2 linked regions of the Homo sapiens genome follow. The protein of the gene in region 2 purifies or fractionates together with the protein of the main gene of each other region. This does not show direct contact. Each region holds a gene or a part of one and is shown on either strand. Other genes may lie near its edges.

Evidence for each region.
Region 1: the proteins of PKNOX1 (region 2) and ACOT7 purify together in Homo sapiens (affinity purification with mass spectrometry; 2 studies listed by BioGRID and IntAct, with this or other methods). This does not show direct contact.

The regions. Positions count from the first base shown.
Region 1 is NC_000001.11:6,381,368-6,393,966, reverse strand, and holds the start of ACOT7 (cytosolic acyl coenzyme A thioester hydrolase), read left to right. Parts: upstream 1-199; 5' UTR 200-567; coding exon 568-710; intron 711-8,198; exon of another isoform or gene 8,199-8,300; coding exon of another isoform or gene 8,301-8,473; intron 8,474-12,599. UniProt on the Homo sapiens protein: Catalyzes the hydrolysis of acyl-CoAs into free fatty acids and coenzyme A (CoASH), regulating their respective intracellular levels.
Region 2 is NC_000021.9:43,003,763-43,016,361, reverse strand, and holds part of PKNOX1 (homeobox protein PKNOX1), read right to left. Parts: intron 12,037-12,599; 5' UTR 11,981-12,036; coding exon 11,930-11,980; intron 8,872-11,929; coding exon 8,744-8,871; intron 6,310-8,743; coding exon 6,138-6,309; intron 3,295-6,137; coding exon 3,124-3,294; intron 1-3,123. UniProt on the Homo sapiens protein: Activates transcription in the presence of PBX1A and HOXA1.

The sequences.
Region 1 (12,599 bases), on a different chromosome or scaffold from region 2:
CCTTCCATTCTCTCTTAGGGCCGATCTTAGCGAGAGCCGCGATGCGGGCGACTGGTGCCGGGGTGGGTTGGGGGCGGGGGTGGGAATCAGGCCCCACTGCCAGGAGCCCGGGCCGCGCCTTCCGCTCTGACCTCATCCGGCCGCCCAGGCACTGGGCGCGGCAGCGAATCGGCGGCGCGGGCGGCCGGGAACGCCCAGCACAAATATTTACCGCCGCGCGGAGAGTGAGGGCCCAAGTCCGCCCTGCTCCGCCACTTAGGCCGCCCCAGACGCTTCCCTCGGGGCTGCCACCGGGTCGGGCGCGGCTGCCGCGGCTAGCGGGCCTTCCCCGCACCGGCGCGGCCCAACCGCCACCGAACCTTCTGGAAGCGGCGGCTGCCTGGGCCCCCACGCCGCCAGAATCGTACGCCCGCGCGAGCTCTCTGCAGCCTTGGCGGCCTGGGAGGCGGGGCTCGGGGTGGGGCCGGCGCGGGGGCGGGGTCGGCGCGGGGAGGCCGCGTTCGATTGCCCCCGGCGCGCAGGCCCCGCCTCACCAGCCCCATCGCTCCACCTCTGCCCTCCCCCTTTATGGCGCGGCCCGGGCTCATTCATTCCGCGCCGGGCCTGCCAGACACCTGCGCCCTTCTGCAGCCGCCCGCCGCATCCGCCGCCGCAGCCCCCAGCATGTCGGGCCCAGACGTCGAGACGCCGTCCGCCATCCAGATCTGCCGGTAAGAGAGGGCCCGCGCGCAGCCTGCAGCGGCCAGGCGCGCCGGTCACCGCCCCAGGCCTGCCCCGCTTGGCTCTGTGGTCCCCACCCGCCGAGGCCGCCCCCGCCCGCCGATTCCCCGCACGGCCTTCCGCGCCGCCGCCCCGGACGCCCGCCCGGCCGGGATGCGACTCGCGATGCCGCACAAGCCGGGCGGCCCCCGCCCGCCTCCAGCCGGCTCCTCCTGGCCGCATCTCCAGGGCGGCGGCCGCGCCACGGGCCGTTTGGGCGAGAAAGCCAGGCAGGGACGGGGCGGGCGGAGGTCAATGCACAGCTCCAGAGCCCGGCGACCGGCGCCCGTGGGCCGCCCCGCCTCGGGCCTCGCCCGAGCATCCCGGAGCCTCAGCCCCGTGGTCCTGCTTAGCCTCCTCGAGGATTCGGGATCATTACCTCGGCGGTTGTGCTGCGCTAACCAAAGCCCCCAGAGGTGGAGGGGAGGTGCCCAGAGCCGCGCGAGCCCCTCGGTGGGTGCCCCTGTGGGAGGAGGTTGCAGAGCTACCGTCTTCAGTGCACTGCTTCGGTTTGGGGGAGGGCAGGTGTTGAAAGGAAGAACAGATAATACTGTCTACCTCTAACAGTTTACTATGAAGAAAAGGGAATCAGTGGTCTGTTGGGCCTGAAAGCATCTTACACAATAGAGGCAAAGGGTTGTCCTTCTAGAGCACCCCCTCTTCTTCCACCAGGTACTGAGTAGATAGATGCAGGCCCCCAGAGGAAGCTGGAGGCTGGAGATCATGAACAAGCTCATTTCCCATAGGAGGTGGGGAGGGCAGCCTGAAGGTTACTCTGCAGTTCTCTTCGGCAGAATCGGAAGCAGCAGGCTGGCATTTGTGCATGAGCTAAGTGAGGACAAGGAGTCTAGGTTTTCAGCCACTGCACACAGGCTCTGTGGCCTGCGACCGGTCCTATCCTGCTTGATGAACTACCAGGAGTGAGAGCTGCTTTCTGTTTTGGTAGTGGGTTCCTCACATTTGGGGGTTGGGCATCACAGACTGACCTTGGGCTCAAGCCAAGTCCAATAGAAGCAAGTTACTTTCCTGTAGATGTTGACATCTCCAGGAAGGCTGGGCATATAGCAAGTCCTGGGTCTATGGCGATTCTTGACTCTCAGTCTCATCTTCTGGCCTGGTCGAGGGCCTCTCCTTACCTCAAGGTCGGTTTTGACTTTTCCAGAGGGGGAACGTCTTTGGGGGAGCCCTGCCCCTTTGACTTTGGCTCTGTGGCTGTTCTGGTCCCATCGACTCTGGAGGTGGGGAAAGCGGGGCAAAAAAAAAAAAGGAAATAACTGGAGACAGACAGCCTGCATCAGGTTCCTGAATCAGCTCTGCTGAGTATTGGCTGGGAAACTTGGGCTCCATGGTTTGCAAAGAGCTTATACCTGTCTCATCCCACTTGGTTTGCCCAATTCCCTGGGAGGTTGATGGTCGGTAGTGCCACCCTTACCTGTGTGGAGGAGGAAATGGCAGTTTTGGGAGTTGAGTAACTGTGTAAGGTCATCCTGCTCCAGGAGATCCAGGGACAGCCCCTGCCCAAGTCTTCTGACTCCAGATCCAGTATTCTTCCCACCCCTCTCCTGAATAAAGGAAACCTTGATTTAAATCTTCCCGTGGAAGGCTGGCCTTTTATTTACTTCTTCAGGGTGGTGAATAGCCAATTTATACATGTTGTCTTTTTTCACCCAGCTTCTAACAGTTACTAGATTTTTTGTTTTTTGAGACAGAGTCTCACTCTGTCACCCGGGCTGGAGTGCAGTGGCCCGATCTCAGCTCACTGCAACCCCTGCCTCCTGGGCTCAAGTGATTCTTGGGCCTCAGCCTCCCGAGTAGCTGGGACTACAAGAGTGCGCCACCACGCCTGGCTAATTTTTGTGTTTTTAGTAGAGATGGGGTTTCTCCATGTTGGCCAGGCTGGTCTCGAACTCCTGACCTCAGGTGATCTGTGATCTGCCCTCCTCGGCCTCCCAAAGTGCTGGGATTACAGGTGTGAACCACCGCACCCAGCTGGAAAAAGTTCTTGTGCCTCAGCCTCCTGAGTAGCTGGGACTACAGGCGTGCGCCACCACGCCCAGCTAATTTTTGTATTTTTAGTAGAGATGGGGTTTCATCATGTTGGCCAGGCTGGTCTTGAACTCCTGACCTCAGGTGATCCTCCCGCCTCAGCCTCTCAAAGTGCTGGGATTACAGGCGTGAGCCACTGCTCCTAGCCTAGTTACTAGATTTTTGTATAGCTTTAGACACTTCCATACAGTAAGTGTGTGCTTTTTGTTTGTTTGTTTGTTTGTTTTTGAGACAGTCTCGCTCTGTCACCCAGACTGGAATGCAATGGCACGATCTCAGCTCACTGCAACCTCTGCCTCCTGGGTTCAAGCGATTCTTCCACCTCAGCCTCCTGAGTTGCTGGGATTATAGGTACCCGCCATCATGTCTGGCTAATTTTTGTATTTTTAGTAGAGACGGGGTTTCACCATGTTGGCCAGGCTGGTCTTGAACTCCTGACCTCAGGTGATCTGCCCGCCTCGGCCTCCCAAAGTGCTGGGATTACAGGCGTGAGCCACTGCGCCTGGCCCGTGTGTGTGCTTTTTCTTACCCACTGTAAACCAAGTCTGCTATCTCAGGTTCACAATTGCATATTGTTTCTTTATTTTTTGGAGATGGAGTCTCACTCTGTCACCCAGGCTGGAGTGCGGTGACACACTCTCGGCTAACTGCAACCTCTGCCTCCTTTGTTCAAGTGATTCTCCTGTCTCAGCCTCCCGAGTAGCTGGGACTACAGGCGTGCACCACCGTGCCCAGCTAATTTTTGTATTTTTAGTAGAGATGGGGTTTCACCATGTTGGCCAGGCTAGTCTCGAACTCCTGACCTTAGATGATCTGCCCGCCTCGGCCTCCCAAAGTGCTGAGAATTACAGGCATGAGCCACCGTGCCTGGCCAATTGCATATTGTTTCTAAGTGGCTGCCTTGGCCAGACGACTGGTGAGGAGGATGCTTGGCTGCCCCTGCTCATGAGTGAGCAGGTGAGCCTCAGGTGCAGAGCGTGACTGCCAAAGGAGTAGGCGGGAGTGGTGGTAGGGGTAGGCCTGTGAAGAGAAGGCTGTGGTTCCATCGGCTTGACTCAGAGAAACCGCAGGACACTGGAGAGTGACTGTACTAGGATGGGGAGCCCTTTAAGGACATCTGAGCTGACACCCCAAGTTGAAAGAGGAGCCTCCTGGCCTAGCACAGCCAAGCCCATGAATTTAACAATGCTTTACTGGACACTGCCAAGAAGCATAGCACCAGGAGGGAAACGTGTGGAAAATGTGGCCCCTGCCTTAAGGGGTCACAGTCTAGCAGGGGTGAGAACGTCCAAATTCCCACCATCTTAGACACAATGGTCACATGTTCTCAGTTCAGACATTGTTGAAGGGATAGGGGCTTTTTTTTCTTTCTTTTTTTTTTTTTTTTGAGAGGGAGTCTTGCCCTGTCCCCCAGGCTAGATGCCATCTCGGCTCACTGCAACCTCTGCCTTCGAGGTTCTACTGATTCTCCTGCCTCAGCCTCCTGAGTAGTTGGGATTACACACGCCCGCCACCACGCCCAGCTAATTTTTTTGTATTTTTTTAGTAGAGATGGAGTTTCACCATGTTGGTCAGGCTGGTCACGAAGGGAACAGAATTTTTAATTGCATCAATTTAAATTCAGGTGGGTAGCCACCTGTGGCTGGTGGCTATCTTTTGGGGAGTGCAATATGTAGAGAAATTTAAACATCAATTTACTAGTAGGTCTGTGGGGGGCAGGGTGTTCCTAAAGGAAGCTCCAAGGCTTTCTGGGGACTGTAGCCAGCTCTGGAATAACCATGCTGATGGAGGGGGACCTTGGCATGGACACCACCCAGCAGGCAGATAACTTGGCATGCTTTATTTATAGGTAGATGTGTGAAATCTACAAGGTTTTTTTGTGTTTTCTTTGCTTGCCATGCTCTTAGATGCAGATCTACCAGGAAGTTTCCTGAGATCAGGAATTGTGTTGTACCATGTGGTACCATGAATGCCTAGAATAGTGTCTGAGGTCTAGTTGACAGGTCAATAAACAGCAGCTGAGTGGCTATGAGTTTCAGTATGTTATGGGGTTAGAATTATTTCCCCCAAGGGAAAAGACAAAGAGGGGCTCTACCTTTGTCTTTTTTTTTTTTTTTTCTTGAGACGGAGTCTCACTCTGTTGCCCAGGCTGGAGTGCAGTGGCGCGATCTCGGCTCACTGCAAGCTCCGCCTCCCGGGTTCACGCCATTCTCCTGCCTCAGCCTCCTGAGTAGCTGGGACTACAGGCATCCGCCACCACACCCGGCTAATTTTTTTTTGTATTTTTATTAGAGATGGGGTTTCACTGTGTTAGCCAGGATGGTCTCGATCTCCTGACCCTGTGGTCCTCCCACCTTGGCCTCCCAAAGTGCTGGGATTACGGGCGTGAGCCACCGCACCCGGCCTTTTTTTTTTTTTTTTTTTAAGAGAGTCTCACTCTGTCACCCAGGCTGGAGTGCAGTGACAGGATCTTGGCTCACTGCAGCCTCTGCCTCCCCAGTTCAAGCAATTCTCCTCTCCTCAGCTTCCCGAGTAGCTGGGACTACAGGCACCCACCACCACACTCGGCTAATTTTTGTATTTTTAGTAGAGACGGGGTTTCACTGTGTTTGCCAGGCTGGTCTCGAACTCCTGACCTTAAGTGATCTGCCCGCCTCGGCCTCCCAAAGTGCTGGAATTACAGGTGTGAGCCACTGCACCAGGCCGGGCTCTGTCTTTGGTTTTATAATGGAATTAATGAAAAGAAAGAACCTGGCCAGGCGCTGTGGCTCACGCCTGTAATCCCAGCACTTTGGGAGGCCCAGGTGGGCGGATCACGAGGTCAGGAGATGGAGACCATTCTGGCTAACACAGTGAAACCCCATCTCTACTAAAAATACAAAAAATTAGGCGGGCGTGGCGGTGTGCGCCTGTAGTCCCAGCTGCTGGGGAGGCTGCAGGCAGGAGAGTGGCATGAACCCGGGAGGCGGAGCTTGCAGTGAGCTGAGATCCCGCCACTGCACTCCAGCCTGGGCGACAGAGTGAGACTTGGTCTCAAAAAAAAAGAAAAAAAAGTTAGCTGGGCGTAGTGGCGGGTGCCTGTAATCCCAGTTACTTGGGAAGCTGAGGCAGGAGAATCGCTTGAACCTGGGAGGCGGAGGTTGCAGTGAGCCGAGATTGTGCCATTGCACTCCAGCCTGAGCAACAAGAGCAAAACTCCGTCTCAAAAAAAAAGAAAAAAAAAAAAACAAAGAACCTGATTTACAGAAGCCACACTCAGAGCTTGTATTCTGGAGCATTCCGCAAAATGATTTACAGTGCTGGCTCTCTTGCTGCTGGGATGTGTGGACCCTGGGTGAAGATGCAGTCTTTGTAACCCAGAGAGCCTGTGCGTGGGGAGGCCTTTGTCTACCCACTGTCCAACCTCACGCTGTAAGTGGGCCACTTAGCCTGGCATTGCCCTGGAATTGGCACCTGCAGCTAGCTGGCTCCCCAGTTCTGGTCAGACCAGAAGTGGCTTTCTCCTGTGTGACCCACCTGGCCTGTGTAGCCTGCACCAGGGGGTGACCCCATAGGCTGTCTTGCCATCCCACCCCTTGGCCTCTCACTCTCAGAGCCCTCCTGGGGAGGGGGATCAAGGATGTGCCTCCCCATCCTTGGACCCCTGCATGGGAATAACTGGGGAAGTCTGTTACAAATATGGGTTTTCTGCATGTGAACAGTACTTCAGCAGAGAGTCAACAAGATGAAGATTGAGGAGATAATGGGGAAACTTGAATAGTCCCTTGATAATGATTTTAAGGAATCACTGCTTTTTTTTTTAAGGTAGGATAATTGTTTTGTAGTTTGCTTTTTTAAACCAGCTTTATTGAGATAGATTTAGAATGCATACACAAGAATATTTGAAACGTACAGTTTGCTGAGTTTTGATGAGTGTGCACACTGAGTAGTGGCGGGCCCAGTTGTGATGTCGAATATTTCCAAACTCCCAAAATTCCCCTACTGTTGGCCCCTGGCAAAAAGATCTGCTTTCACTCACTCGCTGTGCCTCTTCTAGAATTTCGTGTCGATGGAACCGGATCGAGCTCAGTGCTGGGCCTCGCTCCTGTGTCCCCGTAGCCCTGTATTACCCTGTTCCCTGCACACTGCAGTTTCTCTTCACCAGGCCACAGAGACTTGGGATCTTGTGAATGAAGTTCACAAATGCAGATTTCAATTCATTTAGGACAGAAACGTGAAGTCACTTGCTATTTAATGATATTAGGAATTTGGATGATATTTTAGATGAGATCTTTGTTTTGTGGTTTTTATTTTTATTTGAGACAGGGTCTCGCTTAGTTGGCCAGGCAACTAAGTGGTGCAGTGGTGCAATCATGGTTCTCTGCAGCCCCAACCTTCTGGGCTCAAGGGATTCTCCCACCTCAGCCTCTCGAGTAGCTGGGACTACGAGTGCACGCCTCTGTGCCTGGCTAATGTTAAAAAGATTTTTTGTAGAGACATGATCTCACTTTGTTGCCGAGGCAGGTCTTGAACTCCTGGGCTCAAGTGATCTTCCCACCTCGGCCTCCCAAAGTGCTGGAATTGTGGGCATGAGTCACCATACCCCTCCTTTAGGTTTTTCACAAGGAGCTTTTATCTTTGAGAGGAAATGCAGACATATTTACGATGTCGTACTGGGAAATCCGGGATTTGCTGCAGAATAACCTGGCATGGGGAGCAGGTGGGAGCAGAGACCAGAGGTGCCCTGAGCTGACTGTTTTGGGGCTGCTTGATGGGGACATAGGGGTTCACTCCCTCCTCCCTCTACTCTTGTAAGCATTTGATGTTTACCACAATGAAGAATAAAAAGAAAACCAGGCTCCTGAGCCTCCACCCCAGAGCTACTGCCTCTAACTCCAGGGGCGGGGAAGGTCAGGGAGGGGTAGGCCCAGGAATCTGCATTTTCCTCGGCCCTCCTGGAGCTTGAGGGCCACTGTCAGAGGAGGGCCAGGCACCTGCCGTGTTGTGCGGTGTGTTGGCCTTCCTCGGCTTCCCCGCAGCCTTCCAGCTCTCCCGGTGCCTGTGAGCCAAGACCTCTCTGCCCAGGTGGAACTCCGCCCAGGTGGAACTCATTCTTCTACTTGCCTGAGGGCCAGCCTGAGTGGTGCGAGGTTTAAGGTCCTGGAGGTGGGAACCCTTATGAGTGTTGCTTGTGGCCCCACCCAGTTCATCCTCTCCCGCAGAGGGGTGGTGGCCCTGTCCTGTTTCCCTGTCTGTGAGTTCAGGCCGAGTCATGGATTCCTTGCATCACTGGTCTTTTGTAGAGAACATCCTGTGATCCAGTTCCGGAAGCCGAGGAGGCGGCTTGCCGGGGGCTGGTGGGGGAGGGGCGGTCCTAGGAGGAGCAGGAGCCTGGTGCTTTCTATCAGGGAGGGATCACACCGGCTCACTGCTGAGCCGGCCAGGCAGACACAGGCTTGGGCTCTGCTGGGCATCATACTTGTCACTGGGTAAACAGTTTGCCCACTTACCGCAGGATGAAGCTGCTTGCCAGGGCTCTCCGGCTCTGTGAGTTTGGGAGGCAGGCATCTTCCAGGAGGCTGGTGGCTGGCCAGGGATGTGTGGGGCCCCGGCGAGGGTGCTGCGCTCCCGTCCAGGTGGTTGGGCCCAGGGCTGATCTCCCACCCTGTGGAGCCTGCATTACTGGAAGGTAGGATGACTGGGAATATTTTGTGCCCATGGTGTCTCACTTGCGACGCCGACTGGGCAGCCAGGGCCTTGGGCCGCATAACTTGGAGGAGTTTTGGGGAGGGTAGTAGGGTCGGGTGTTGGATGAGCTGTGTGTTTTGCTGGATTGAAAGTGCCCACTTAAGTGGCCACCCTCAGTGGAGACCTGGCATGTTCTTCCCCTAGGGACGAGCGGAACACCCGGGCTTTGTTGGAGGAGGTGACCTGGCAACCCTGGGCTGTGGGAATCTGGGCCTCTGCAGATCAAGGCTCCTGCAAGCCAGCAGCTGTGCTGGCTCACAGCTGGCAGCTGGCATCCGTGCCCTGCTTTGTCCCTAGGCTGGATGTTGAGCTGTGATTTTAGACCAGAAGGTTGGTGCAGGGCCAGAGGGAGCTGTTCCTGCACGATTGGCTGATCCTAACAGTGCAGTGTTGAGCTGCTTACAGATGGCTTTTGCATACTTTATTTCTCCTAAACTTTACAGAAACTCTGTTGAGTGGGCATACATACCTCCCCCTTTGTGCCAGCTTTATTGGGTTATAGTTCACATGCCATACAATTCATTCACTAATGTGTACAAGCTAGTAGATTTCAGTTTTATGTTCACAGAGCTGTGGGATCATGACCTCCATCAATTTTGAAAGGGGTGGTAGGAGGATTTTTTGTTCTCCTGACATGGAGCTCCCCAAGCCCTTGGGACCTTTGTAGTCCTAAGAGTGTCTAGTATGCTAATGAGAGAACTGGTGGCTGGGGGCCCTAGATATAGCTTCAGGATGGGAGCTGGTCTCCAGAAAGGCCAAGGGAGGATTAGCGGGTTAGCGCTTTCAACCTTACCTTCCTATACCGCAGAAGGTAGTGCCAGACTTTACTTGAATTGTAGGACACCCACCTAGTGTCGGAGAGTTGGAGAAGTGGGGTTGAAAGAGACACCCATGTTTGTTATTAAAAGCATGAGTAAAAACAGCTCGCCTAGGAATATAATTTTTGGGTCATATGGTAATTTTGTGGTTATTCTCTTGAGGAATTACCAGACTGTTTCCAAAGTGGCTGCACCATTTCACATTCCCACCAGCAGTGTAAAAAGGATTCAATTTCCCCATATCCTTGTCAGCACTTGTTATTATCCATCTTTTGAATTCTAGCCATGCTAGTAGATGTGCAGTGGTATCTCACTGTGGCTTTGATCTACATTTCCCTAATGAGAGAAGATGATACTGAGCATCTTCTCATGTGCTTATTGACCACTGTGTATTTTTAGAGAGCTGTCTAGTCAGGTCTTTCCTGTATTTTCCAATTGGTGTAATTGTCTTTTTGTTGTTGAGTGATGAGAGCTCTTTATATATTCTAGATGCAAGTCCCTTCTCAGATAAAATTTTTTAATTAAGAAAATTTTCCAATTCAAAAAAGTTGTCAGCCTGGGCAACATAGCAAGATCTGATCTCTATTAAAGATTAAAAAATTAGCCAGATGTTGGCTGGGCGTGGTGGCTCACACCTGTAATCCCAGCACTTTGGGAGGCCGAGGCGGGCGGATCACGAGGTCAGGGGATCGAGACCATTCTAGCTAACACAGGGAAACCCCATCTTTACCAAAAATACAAAAAATTAGCCGAGTGTGGTGGCGGGCGCCTGTAGTCCCAGCTACTTGGGATGCTGAGGCAGGAGAATGGCTTGAACCCGGGAGGCGGAGCTTACAGTGAGCCAAGATCGTGCCACTGCACTCCAGCCTGGGCCACGGAGCAAGACTCCGTCTCAAAAGAAAAAAAAATTAGCCAGATGCAGGGTAGGTGGGGTGTGCCTGTAGTCTCAACCACTCAGGAGATTGAGGCAGGAAGATTGCTTGAACCCAGGAAGTTGAGGCTGTAGTGAGCTTATTGCACCACTGCAATCCAGCCTGGACAACAGATCAAGACTCTTGTCTCTCAAAAAAAAAAAAACTGTGTTAAAATACACATAATATATAATTTACCGTTAAAAAAATCTGCCATCAGGCCGGGCGCGGTGACTCACGCCTGTAATCCCAGAACTTTGGGAGGCTGAGGCGGATGGATCACGAGGTCAGGAGATCGAGACCATCCTGGCTAACAAGGTGAAACCCCGTCTCTACTAAAAATACAAAAAATTAGCCAGGCGTCATGGTGGGCGCCTGTAGTCTCAGCTACTTGGGAGGCTGAGGCAGGAGAATGGCATGAACCCGGGAGGCGGAGCTTGCAGTGAGCTGAGATTGCGCCACTACACTCCAGCCTGGGCAACAGAGCAAGACTCCGTCTCAAAAAAAAAAAAAAAATCTGCCATCTTAGCCGGGCATGGTGGCTCACACCTGTATTCCCACCACTTTGGGAGGCCAAGCTGGGTGGATCACCTGAGGTCAGGAGTTGGAGACCAGCCTGGCCAACATGGTGAAACCCCGTCTCTACTACAAATACGAAAAATAGCTGGGCGTGGTAGCCCACGCCTGTAGTCCCAGCTACTTGGGAAACTGAGGCAGGAGAATCACTTGAACCTGGGAGGCGGAGGTTGCAGTGATCCAAGATCGTGACATTGCACTCCAACCTGGGTGACAAGAGCGAAACTCTGTCCAAAAACAAAAAAAAAACAAAAAAACTGCCATCTTAATGATATGTGTATATGTATATGGTTAAGATGGCAGGTTTTGTTTTGTTTTTTAAATTGAGACAGGGTGTTACTCTGTCTTCTGGGGCGCATGTGGTGGTGCAGTCTCGGTCACTGAGCCTCTACCTCAAGTGATCCTCCTGCCTCAGCCACCCGAGTAGCTGGGACCACAGGCATGTGCTACCATACCTGGGTAATTTTTGTAGTTTTTGTAGAGACAGGATTTCGCCATGTTGGCCAGGCTGGTCCCAAACTCCTGAGCTCAAGGGATCTGCCCATCTCCGTCTGCCTCCTAAAGTGCTGGGATTACAGGTGTGAGTCACAGCGCCTGGCTACCATATACGTATTTGTAGCCATATTTTCTTGCTCTGTCACCCACTACGTCTCACTATGTTTCCCAGGCTCATTTTAATCATTTTTAAATGTCCAGCTCAGTTTTTTTGTTTTGTTTTTTGTTTTTGAGACAGAGTCTCGCTCTGTCGCCCAGGCTGGAGTGCGGTGGCACAATCTCGGCTCACTGCAAGCTCCGCCTCCCGGATTCAAGCGATTCTTCTGCCTCAGCCCCCCGCGTAGCTGGGACTACAGGTGCCCGCCACCACGCCCAGCTAATTTTTGTATTTTTAGTAGAGACGGGGTTTCCCCATGTTGGCTAGAATGGTCTTGACCTCGTGATCCGCCTGCCTCGGCCTCCCAAAGTGTTGGGATTACACGCGTGAGCCACCGCGCCCGGCCAAGTCTTGCACTTTCGCCCAGGCTGGAGTGCAGTGGCGCAATCTTGGCTCACTGCAAGCTCCGCCTCCCGGGTTCATGCCATTCTCCTGCCTCAGCCTCCTGAGTAGCTGGGACTACAGGCGCCCACCATCACGCCCAGCTAATTTTTTTTTTGTATTTTTAGTAGAGATGGGGTTTCACCGTGTTAGCCAGGATGGTCTCGATCTCCTGACCTCATGATCCACCTGCCTCGGCCTCCCAAAGTGCTGGGATTACAGGCGTGAGCCACCGCGCCCGGCTCATTCCCTTCCTTTTAAAGACTGAATCATGTTCCATTTCATGGATGGACCACATTTTGCTTATTCCATCATCTGTGGATGGACACTTGGGTTAATCCCACATTTTAGCTTGTGAATAATGCTGCTATGAACACAGCAGAGACCCCGTTTTTAGTTCTTTAGGATATATTCCCAGAAGTGGAATTGCTGGATCATATGGCAATTCTATTTTAAATCTTTAAAGAAACGACCATACTGTTTTCCACAGCGGCTATGCCATTTTACATTTCCACCGACAGTGTACATGGGTTCTGGTTTCTGGGCATCCTTGTCAATACTTGTTATTTTCTGTTTTTTTTTGATAGTTGCCATCCTAATGGGTGTGAAGTGGTGTTTCATTGTGGTTTTGCTTTGCATTTCCCTAATGTTTAGTGATGTTGAATGTCTTTTCATGTGTTTATTTGTCAACTGTATTTTTTCTTTGTAGAAATGTCTACTCAAGTTGTT
Region 2 (12,599 bases):
TTCTTGCTTGTACAGTGCTTGGAACTGTGCCCGGCCTACAGCGAGCCCCATGCAAATGTTTCTACATGCCCCATGGAGGACTCTATGCATCTGGGGTTAGATCCACATGGGCCACTTTATCCACTGACTGTGACGCCTGGGTGGGCAGCTGGCAGGGGAGAGGAGCCTCCAGTGCCGGGCCTGGCACACTCATGTGCCCTGACATGTGAGCAGTTACATAGCATAAGGGGACGCCACCCCAAGGCGGTGATTCTGTGGGCCATCATCGAGCGGAATGTGTAAGCTTAGTGGCTACGCTTAAAGCCTGCCACATTAATTAGGCTGTAATAAAAGTTAAGCTAGTCAAATCAATCATCCCAGCTTCCACCTTAAGATCTTAGAAAAAGAGGAACATCATGAACCGAAAGCAGAAGAAAGGAAATAATAAAGATCAAGGTGAAATCAATGAAACTGAAAACAGAAAAACAACCAAAAAAATCAATAAAACAAAATACTGTTCTTTGAAAATTACATAAACCTCTAGAAAGACTGACTAAAAAAAAAATAGAGACACAAAAGATCAATATCAGAAATAAAACAGGAAGAGATCACTATAGACCCTGCTAACACCAAAAGGCTATGAAGAGAATACTAGACCAACTCTAAACTCCTAAATTTAACATCTTAGGTGAAATAGATCAATTCTATTTCTCAAACATTTAAGAAATAACACCAAGTCTACATAATCTCCAGAAAAAAATAAGAGGAGGGAATACTTCCCAATCCATTTTATGTAAGTTTGTGTATTTTGATACCAAAACCAAAGACAGTATGAAAAACAAAACTATACACCAATATCCCTTACAAATATAGACAAAAATGCTGAACAAAATATTAGCCAATAGAATTCAAGAATACATATGAAAAGAATTATGTGCCATGGCCAAGTGGAGTTTATTCCAGGAATAGAAGGCTTGTTCAATATTCAAAAAACCAATCCATGTAATGTCCATTATTAACAGGCTAAAGAAGAAAAATCACATAATCATATCAATCAATGCTGGAAAAGCATTTAACAAAATTGAACAAAATAAAATCTCTCAGAAAAAAAGCAATATAGGATAACCTCCTTAACTTGATAAAGAGCATCTAGAAAGAAACCTGCAACCAACATCATCGACAGTGAGCGACTGAAAGGTGTCCCCTAAGGCGGTGACAAGGCAAGGATGTCTGCTCTTGCCACTCTTATTCGAGATGGCACAGGCCAGGAAAGGAAATGCTTGGGTATAATTCTAAAAACGCATGTACACAACTTATGTGTCAAAAACTACAAAGCACTGATGAATGAAATCAGAGTTGTCAATCAATGGAGAGACATGCCATACCTGTGGACTGGAAGACTTAATGCAGTAAAGATGTCAATTCTCCCCAGATTGATATACAGGTATAATACAATTCCTATCAAAATCTAAGCAAGATGTTTTTGTAGCTCTAGACAAGAGCATTCTAAAATTTATGTGGACAGGCAAAGGAACCAGAACAGCTAAACAATTTTGAAAAGGAATCACAGGGTGGGAGGAAACAATGTGCCCAGCTTTGAGAGTTATTCTATAGAGAAATCCACTCAAAATGGATCACGGATTTAAATGCAAAATGGACAACTATAAAACTTTTGAGGCCAGGCATGGTGGTTCACACTTGAGCCCAGGAGTTTGGGACAAGCCTGGGCAACATAGTGAGACCTTGTCTCTATTTAAAAACTTTTAGGAAAAAACTTAAGACGAAGTCTTTGGGACCTAGGGTTAGGCAAAGAGTTCTTAGACTTGACACCAAAAGAATGATCCATAAAAGGAAAACCTAATAAATTGAACTTTATTAAAATTAAAAAGGCTGGCTCTGAAAAAGACCTGTTAAGAGGATGAGAAAAATACTTAGCTACTATAGACTTGGAGAAAACACTTGCAAACCACATATCCAACAGAGAACTAGTATCTACAATAAGCAAAGAACTCTCAACACTCAGAAGTTAAAAAAAAATCCAACTAAAAAATGCGCAAAAGACGGCCAGGCGTGGTAGCTCATGCTTGTAATCCCAGCACTTTGGGAGGCCAAGGCGGGCGGATCACGAGGTCAGGAGATCGAGACCATCCTGGCTAATACGGTGAAACCCCGTCTCTACTAAAAATACAAAAAATTAGCCGGGTGTGGTGGCAGGCACCTGTAGTCCCAGCTACTCAGGAGGGTGAGGCAGGAGAATGGCATGAACCCAGGAGGCGGAGTTTGCAGTAAGCCGAGATCGCGCCACTGCACTCCAGCCTGGGTGATGGAGCGAGACTCTGTCTCAAAAAAAAAAAAAAAAAAAAGGCAAAAGACATAAGCAGCAGACATTTTATCAAAGAAAATACACAGAGGGTATAATAATGTTCAACATTATTAGCCATCAGGGAAATGAAAATTAAAACCACAAAGAAATATTAATATCACTACATATCATCAGAATGGCTAAAACACAATAGTGCTTCCGCATGGATGAACCCTCCAGGCATTCTGCACAATGAAACAAGCAAAGGATCCAGAAGGACAAACACTGTACGATTCCGCTTAACATGAGAGACCTGGAGTCATCGAATTCACAGAGACAGACAGTAGAACGGTGGGTTCCAGGGGCTAGGGGAGGGGGAATCCGGAATGAGTGTTTAATGGGGTCAGAGTTTGAGTTTGAGAAGATGAGAAAGTTCTGGAGATGGATGGTGTTGATGGTTGCCCAACAATGTGAATAAACTTAACACCATTGAACTGTAAATTTTAAAATAGCTAAGATGGTAAATTTTATATTATGTGTATTTTACACAATTTTTCAAAAGAATAAGTAAAATATTTTCAGAAGAAATAAAAGAAAGAAATGAATGGAATTGTGCCTTCCATAAACATGGGACCGGGGGCCCAGTATGCAGATTGAGGACTCACTTCATAATCTGAGGGAGTTCATTCCCAAACCAGGCTGGGGTCAGAGACCTAGAGGGTCCTTCTTGTAGAAAGTCATAAAGATGACCCAGTGAATTCTGAAAGAGCTGGTGGTCTCATGACTCAATGCAGATGTTCACAGTGGCAGAGAGGGAAAGCGAGACCCCCAAATGTAAGTACCTGGGACTGCACTGGTGAGTACGGGCTTCCAGGCTCTCCACTCAACAGAGTTTCACTGTTCATTTTTGTTTTCAGACAAGCAATGTATCGACTGCAGAAATCTTTGCAGAGTTCGTTAACCTTTTCCAGCTCAAGAAGATGAATGCGCAAAACCTGGATTGCTTTTACCATCTAGAGCAGAGAAAATGAAGACTTTCAGAGAAAAAGGTGGCATTATTGTAAGTTATCATGATCCTACATACCAGTTCTTAGTCATTAGATAGAACCATCTCTACTGCCAATAACCAAAGTGGAATAACATCAGAAATCCTCTAAACTGATGTGTTGTTCCGGTGCCACTGACCTGGGCTTTGGTGTTTGGCTGCATCTGGTGTGCAGGGAAGACAAAGGCGCGTGGTGGTGACCTCGGTGCATCCCAGTGCTAGGTGTGTGGGCTGTGAGCCAAAGCCTAGCCCTTCCACTGATTCGCTCTGTGGCAGGCAGGACAAGTGACTCACCCTCATCTACTCCTGTTTCTACATCCACAAATAGTGATACATCCACACTCACCCTAGGCTAGTGCTACATTTTCATAAAGTTCCATTTTGGTGTCTTTGCCTAGTTCTAGATCCTCAAGATTTTCTCTTGCGATTTTTCTAAAAGTTATATCATTTTGTTTTGTTTTGTTTTTTGAGACAGAGTTTCACTCTTATTGCCCAAGCTGGAGGCTGAAGTGCAGTGGTGCGATCTCAGCTCACTACAACCTCTGCCTTCTGGGTTCAAGTGATTCTCCTGCCTCAGCCTCCTGAGTAGCTGGGATTACAGGTGTGCACCACCATGCCCAGCTAATTTTTGTATTTTTAGTAGAGATGGGGTTTCACCATGTTGGTCAGGCTGTTCACGAACTCCTGACCTCAGGTGATCCACCTGCCTCAGCCTCCCAAAGTGCTGGGATTACAGGCGTGAGCCACCACGCCTGGCCAAAGTTGTATAGTTTTATATTAAGTAACTACATTTTGGGGTAATTTGTCCCACAGCAATAGATAACTAATACCAATAATGCAGCCATTTTCATAAGCACCAGCTGCCTATGAATCAGCAGCTCCGAAGCCCATCTCCTTCACCTGTAAATCTGGTGGTAGGAATTCGTAGGTATCTATGCAGTGAATAAATGAATCACTCAGTAACAAAAATGATGGAGTGTCAAACTCTGCTAGGCCCTGTGCTAAACACTCACCAGTCAAGAGAACCTTGGTCCCTGCCAGCCTAGTGGGGTGCAGAGGACACCTGTGCTCTACTCACTGGGCCAAGCCAGGTGTGGGCCAATGGGAAGATGGATGTGGACCACAGACTCAGGGGTGGAGAGAGCATCGGATCCTCACCCAAAGAGCATGCACTGTTAGTCTCATCTCAGAGAGGAGGAGACAGATTCAAGTCAGATAACTCACCCACAAAATCTGTTTCATGGTAAGCATCGAGTATATAATGAGAATTTTCTTAAAAACTAAGACCTCAGCAATTTATTCAGGAAAAATGAGTTTTCCAAAAACCTTTTCTGTTGAAGGCCCTAACCAGGGTTTTGATATGGGACCAAGATGGCTCGAAGGGAATCCAGTGAAGGTTCCCTGATGCCGGATCTTTGTGTACCCAGCTCTGAGAAGTAAACACGTGGTTACACTCTGGCAGGAGAGCACACCCAGAGAGTGTGGTCTGCCCAAAGCTGACAGTGCTGTACAGGTGCCTCAGGTGCAGCTCATTCAGAGCAATCCAGTGATGACGGAACCAAGATGTTCTCCATTGCCTCTGGAGGGCACAGAAAACGCTGGATTTTGGAGCCCTGGCCCTGGGGGGAGGGCATCACAAATCACTGTCAGCCTCAAGACAGAGCTGTCGCCGGGCGTGGTGGCTCACACCTGTAATCCCTGCACTTTGGGAGGCTGAGGCAGGCAGATCACAAGATCAGGAGATCGAGACTATCCTGGCTAACACGGTGAAATCCCGTCTCTACTAAAAATACAAAAAAAATTAGCCGGGCGTGGTGGCGGGTGCCTGTAGTCCCAGCTACTCGGGAGGCTGAGGCAGGAGAATGGCTTGAACCTGGGAGGCGGAGCTTGCAGTGAGCTGAGATCACACCACTGCACTCCAGCCTGGGCAACAGAGCGAGACTCCGTCTCAAAAAAAAAAAAAAAAAAAGACAGAGCTGTCTTGGAGAATACAGCTCAAGTCTGTGTCCATGTCCATGATAAGCCAAGGACAGACACAGGTCACAGACATGCCACCCGAACACCCCAGCCCTACGGACCTTTACAAACACTGTGCAGAGAACTGAATCCCCGTGTCCATTTGGCATGGAGGCTCAAATTATTTTATTTTATTTTATTTTATTTTTATTTTTTGAGACAGAGTCTCACTCTGACACCCAGGCTGGAGTGCAGTGGCACAATCTCGGCTCACTGCAACTTCCGCCTCCTGCGTTCAAGTGATTCTCCTGCCTCAGCCTCCTGAGTAGCTGGGACTACAGGCATGTGCCACCATGCCTGGCTAATTTTGTATTTTCAGTAGAGATGGGATTTTGGCCAACATCGAGACCAGATGTTGGCCAGGCTGGTCTCGAACTCCTGACCTTGTGATCTGCCCACCTCGGCCTCCCAAAGTGCTGGGATTACAGGTGTGAGCCACCACGCCTGGCCTATTTTATTTTATTTTTAAAGGAAAGGGTAGGTTGGGCCTTGAGAGACTGAGGAGGGAAGATTGCTTGAGGCCAGGAGTTTGAGACCATCTGGGGGAATACAGTAAGATGTGTCTACAAAAATAAAATAAATCTAAAAATAAAAACTAAATAAATAAAAGATACCTAGAGAAGGCTGGAAGACTTGGGGATATCCACATTACACACACCATAAAAATTCTTTTAGAGTTGTATGAGTCTCTCCTTTAGCAGAACTACAAGCAGTCTAAAGTTCTACTTAGAAGCCTAAAATTTCATGAACAGATTTCACATTTTGAAAACTAAAAATAAAATTTATTTTACTTACTAAATTATCAGTTTCTGGATCTTCACAAAAGAAAGGTTTCCCTTCCTTCTCTTGCTTTCTTACAAAATTTTCGATGTCTACATCAAAACTGGCAGAAGTTGTGCCTTCAGAGCCCTGTGTAGATTGTTCACATTTTTCAAACAACAAAGCTAATAATGGAAATAGTGGATGCCTGAGGAGAAAAGAAAAAAAAGAATCCATTTACGTTCTACATCTCCGTGAGAATGTCTTTGCGTGTATGCCTGCACTACTTCACTAACACCTCTGTTGGGTGAAAATGCACACGCCACACGGTCCACCCGTTGAAAGTATGCAATTCAACGGTTTTTACAGTTGCACAGCATTGCCGCCGTCAACTTTGGAACATTTCCATGATCCCCGCAAAGAAACCCTGTATCCAATAGCAGTCATTCTCCATTTTTTCCCAGACCCCAGCCTGTTAGAACCTACTTGCTATCTCTATATATTTGCCTCTCCTAGACATTCTGTCTAAATGGGAACCGTCTAACCTGTGACCGTGGTGTCTGGCTTGTTTCCCTCAGCATAAAGTGTCCAAGGCTTACCAGTGTTTTACGGGTATCAGTACTTTATTCCTTTTTTTTTTTTTTTTTTTTGAGATGGAGTCTCACTCTGTCGCCCAGGCTGGAGTGCAGCGGCACGATCTCGGGTCACTGCAACCTCTGCCCTCCCAGGTTTAAGCGATTCTCCTACTCAGCCTCCCCAAGTAGCCGGGACTACAGGCACCCGCCATGATGCCCAGCTAATTTTTTTTATTTTTTGAGATGGAGTTTCGCTCTTGTTGCCCAGGCTGGAGTGCAATGGCGTGATCTCGGTTCACCACAACCTCCGCCTCTCGGGTTCAAGCGATTCTCCTGCCTCAGCCTCCCAAGTAGCTAGGACTACAGGCATGCACCACCATGACTCGGCTAATTTTGTATCTTTAGAGACAGGGTTTCTCCACGTTGGTCAGGATGGTCTCAAACTCCTGACCTCAGATGATCCAACCGCCTCAGCCTCCCAAAGTGCTGGGATTACAGGCGTGAGCCACCATGCCTGGCCTAGTTTTTGTTTTAGTAGAGACAACATTTCGCCATTTTGGCCAGGCTTGTCTCGATCTCCTGACCTAAAGTGATCTGCCCGACTTGGCCCCTCAAAGTCCTGGGATTACAGGCATGAGCCACCGCGCCCGCCACTTCATTCCTTTTACTGCTAAATATTCTTGCATTGCATGGAGATGCCATAATGTGTCTGTTCATTCATCAGTTGATGGGCATGGGCACTGTTTCCAGCTTTTGGCCATGATAGGCTGTGCTGCTATGAAAATTCATGTACACGTTTTTGTGTGGACTTTTTTCATTTGTGTTAGGTATACATATGCATAGGAGTAGAATTGCTGAGTTATATATAATTCTATGCTGAACTTAAAAAAAAATTTTTTTTTTTTGAGATAGGGCCTCACTCTCTGTCACTCAGACTGGAGTACAGTGGCATGATCTCAGCTCACTGCAACCTCCGCCTACCGGGTTCAAGTGATTCTCCCACCTCAGCCTCCAGAGTAGCTGGGACTACAGGCATGCACCACCACACCCGGCTAATATTTGTATTTTTTGGTAGAGACAGGGTTTCGCCATGTTGGCCAGTCTGGTCTTGAACTCCTGACCTCAGGTAATCCACCTGCCTCGGCCTTCCAAAGTTCTGGGATTACAGGTGTGAGCCACTGCGCCTGGCAGACTTTTAAATACTAAACAAGTCTGACATTCCCAGGAAAAACTTGACTTGGTCGCTACGTATTATTCTTTTTACATATTGCTAGAATTGATTTGTTAATATTTTATTGATGATTTTTACATCTAAGTTCATGAAGGATATTGGCCTGTATTTTCCTTATTTGGTATTGTCTTTGGTCTTAGTGTCAGAGTGATGTCAATTATAAAGTGAGTTGGGAAGCATTCACTCCTCCTCTACTTCCTGAAAGAGACTATGCAGACTTGCTGCTCTCTTCTTCTTTATATGTTGGGTAGAATTCTCAGTAAAATCATCTGTGCCTGAATATTTCTTTTTGCAAGGTTACACAAAATTTATAGATTGATATTCTAAAACTTTTATAGGTATTAGAAATAACATCTTTGTGTGTGTGTGTGTGTGTGTGTGTGTGTGTGTGTGACAGAGTTTTGCTCTCGTTGCCCAGGCTGGAGTGCAGTGGTGCGATATCAGCTCAATGCAACCTCCGCCTCCCCGGTTCAAGTGATTCTCCTGCCTCAGCCTCCCAAGTAGCTGGGATTACAGACATGTGCCACCATGTCTGGCTAATTTTTGTATTTTTAGTAGAGATGGAGTTTCACCATGTTGGCCAGGCTGGTCTCAAACTCTTAACCTCAAGTGATCCGCCCGCCTCAGCCTCCCAAAGTGCTAGGATTACAGGCATGAGCCACCACACCTGGCCAGAAATAACATCTTAATCTGAGAAAATTTTCAGCCGAGCAGTTATCACATCATAATGGCACCTCACAACTCTGCCTCGCTACTAGTTCTGGTGTTCCTTTTAACAAACTTGTGGACACTCCTCACTCCTCTGAGGCCCCCACAGCCGGCACCCCGGGCACTACCTATAAATGGCCTGCTTGTCCACATCCATCGGGGTCTGAGACTCCACAGGGGGAGGGCTCACTCCTTCTGCATCGGGTTCAGAGCAGTTTGGATCTTGTTCTGTCTTTAACTCTGTTACTACTTGCATCTGTAAAAGGAGGAAGATAATTCTTATTAGCAAACACAAACTACTACGAGGTATTCCATGCTCCAACAGGAATGCAGTTGGAGTGGGGAATTGCCAGACAGCAGTATGACTGCAATCATATGTAAAGAATGCTACCAACAAAACAGCTTTGAATTTAATGTGCTTTAAAATAAAGGTAAAATTTCCAAACTGCTTAAGAACTGAGATAACCAATGTCTGTGAAATGCTCATGATTTTAAAATAACACTGGCGATGGCCTAATGAAGAGAACGGCACACGTGCAATCTACTCCTCCGTCTATTGCTATATCTCCTCACGTGTAGCAATACTACAGTCAGAGAAGCATAGACAAATAGTCCAAGGTCTTCTTACCATGTCACAGACACAACCTAACCCATACGCTACATATTTGGGACAAGGTTGAACTTCTCCCATATCTACCCTCAAACCTCAGCAATACATAGCCATAAAAATGTCACTGCATTCAGAAAGGAAAAGGCCAGCTGTGTTTACTTAAAGCCTTAAAAGATACTATCATTTAAACTGCTTTAAACAAGCAATGCCTTTGTCATTTAGGTAAAAAACATTTAAATCGTTAAAAAAAATCAGTTTACAAAAACAAAATTTCGTGAAAGTAAACTTCTAGTTATCCATGAGCAGCAGATTAGACTGTCCTGACCTCAGCTTCCTCAGGACCAGGACGGGCCATTTCTCCCGCGGTGGATTTGGCCATGCTTCTGCCCCTTGAGGAAGCAGCTTGGGGCAGCGGGGGCGGGGAGACCTCATGGGAGCGGGGCCATCCCCACTGTCCAGACAGACTGGGGGCCAGCCATGAACGCCCACCCGCACAGGACGCCTCTCACATCCTCCAGCCCTGTGCTCTCTTCCCTCCAATGTCTTGTTTTTGCAATAAGATGACTTCTATTCTGCTGCCTTTAAATGGTACAACATATTAGGAAAACTGTTTATGTTTCTCTTAAAAAAAAAAAATAAAAGCAATAAAGCCTAAGTGGACACAGTATTTGTGTAAGGCAATCTGCCAGCATGTATAAAAAGCCTTAAAAAGGCCAGGCACAGTGGCTTATGCCTGTGATCCCAGCACTTTGGGAGGCCAAGGTGGGCGGATCACCTGAGGTCAGGGGTTCAAGATCAGCCTGGCCAACATGGTGAAACCCTGTCTCTACTAAAAATACAAAAAAATTAGCTGGGCGTGGTGGCACACACCTGTAATCCCAGGTACTCAGGAGGCTGAGACAGGAGAATTGCTTGAACCTGGGAGACGGAGGTTGCAGTGAGCTGAGATCACACCACTGCACTCCAGCCGGGGCAACAGAGCAAGACTCTGTCTCAAAATAAATAAATAAGTAAATAAATAAATAATAAAAAATAAGAAGCCTTAAAAGATTCATTTCAGTATTTGAAAAAAAAATGATTGTGAAAAGAGAGAAACCTAAATGTTCAACCTTGGAAAAATGGCAAAATAATTATGATAGGTCTACGCTGTAGATATATTTCAATGTTTATTTAAAATAATGCTGATTAAACACTTCCGAGGCCCTTGGAAACACTCGGGTATGAAAAGGGCAGTGCTCCAGGTGTCATCTGCACCTGGCACAGCTGCCTGGGAGGAGGTGGCTGGTAGCAACCAGGCTGTGTTGGAGGTGGTCACCGTGCCTTGGTGCACAGGAGGCAGCAGTGGGGTCGGAGCAAAGACCTGGCAGGCAGGAGGGAGAAGAGTGATGGGAACAGTGAGGACCGGTGCTCCAGGGCAGGCAGAGAGGTGCCCAAGATATGCCAGGCAGAGATGTTGGGGGCGTCCTGGGGTCCAGAGGGGCCAGACGATTCGGGCCACAGAGCAGCTCAGTCTTTGCATGAAACCCACAGGAATCCACAGGGAGCCACTGGAGAGCTCAGGCGGGACATTATTAGATTTGCATTTTAGAAAAAAAAAAAAAAGTCAATTGGAAATACCAAAGGACTAAGGACTTCTAGGCTAAGGAAGCAGGCTGACTACATCACAGAATCTCCCTCCTTTAATTGCTATACAGAGAAAAAAAAACACTAACACCACCACCACCAACAACAAAAATCTCTGCCACAGGAACTGAACAAGGACTGGTTGGTAAAACTAACCACCAGGGAAAGGGGGACCCAGCGCCTCAGCTCCTAACCCCTCCTCAGACCTCACCAGCATGGCTCCAGTGAGTTTTCCGGAGCCTGATCCTTGCCACCGAAGTCCTCGAGGTGGGGAGGAGAGCCGAGGGGGGTGTACTGCACTGCCCCTGCCTGCTGGGCAGGAAAGTAAAGGGCAGGGCCAAATCCCTTCACTGGCTCCAGAGTCAGTGGGATGATGAGCCAAATGCCAGTGGGTTCAGAACACCGTGTTTAACAAGATCGCAAGCCAAGAAAGACCACAAGGGCCTCAGCCAAGTCTCGATCCACCTGCTCCTCAATTCATTCAGGTCACAGAACACAAAACACTCAGATACTCAAAAGCACAAAACACCACAGCTTCCAGGAGAACAAAGTCTCATCTATGGTGGGAGGGCAATGGAGAGCTGCCCGTGTATGGCACAACCATCCAAGCACGAGCAAGGTACAAAGATAGAGCACTGGGGCCCCTGCAAATTCATTACTGGGACAGCCCCTCTCATGCCTACAACTGGGGAGACGAGGCTACAAGATTCCCATTCAAAAGCTGATCCAGTTAGACACTCAGAAGAGCCACCAGTCAACATGGGAATCTGTCATCATGAAAATCAACCGGGTTTTCTTTCAAAGTAACAGTGCTAATTAACACTGACATTAAAAAGGTAAATTCCCAAGAAACTGTCATATGACTTAGGGAAGTCAAGATTCCTGGCAATCTTGGTATCAGTTAACGAAATAGTATTATTCTATGGCTTTTTTTCTGAACACGAATGTACAATAAATGCATAATACACTAACACTGAGCATGCAACCTCATGGCAATTGAATTGCAAGTATACAAAGCAATGTTCATGCTTGAGTGCCAGGTTGATTTGTAATTAGAATGCAGAATCAAGTTCAAGCTCACCTGTTGCCCATCTTGATAGCTGTCTATACTTAATGTCTGTGTAGCCATCATGGTTCATCAGAGTTTTATAAGACATCAAATCATCTTGGGTGAAAAGCGAATGGTGTCTGGAGAACAAAACCAGAAAAGCATCAGTTAATAGTTGTAGAGCATTTTTTGTCTCCCTCATTCCATAACATCAAATTTTTTTTTTTTGAGACCGAGTTTCACTCTTGTTGCCCAGGCTGGAGTGCAATGGCGCGATCTCGGCTCACCTCAACCTCCGCCTCCCAGGTTCAAGTGTTTCTCCTGCCTCAGCCTCCCTAGTAGCTGGGATTACAGTCATGTGCCACCATGCCTGGATAATTTTGTGTTTTTAGTAGAGACGGGGTTTCTCCATGTTGGTCAGGCTGGTCTCGAACTCCCGACCTCAGGAGATCCACCCGCCTCGGCCTCCCAAAGTGCTGGGATTACAGGCATGAGCCACCACACCCAGCCCATGACATCCAATTTTTAAAAATACATATTTTTACATGTAGAGAACAAAAAAATTATCCTTAACAGTATGTTATGACCCAAATCCTACTTAGCAACCCTTCACTTACATAGCAATCACTTATTTTCCTGTGCTAGGCCCTGACTTGCTATTACATTTTCAGTCACTGTCATTCATTGCCCAGCTAATATCAAG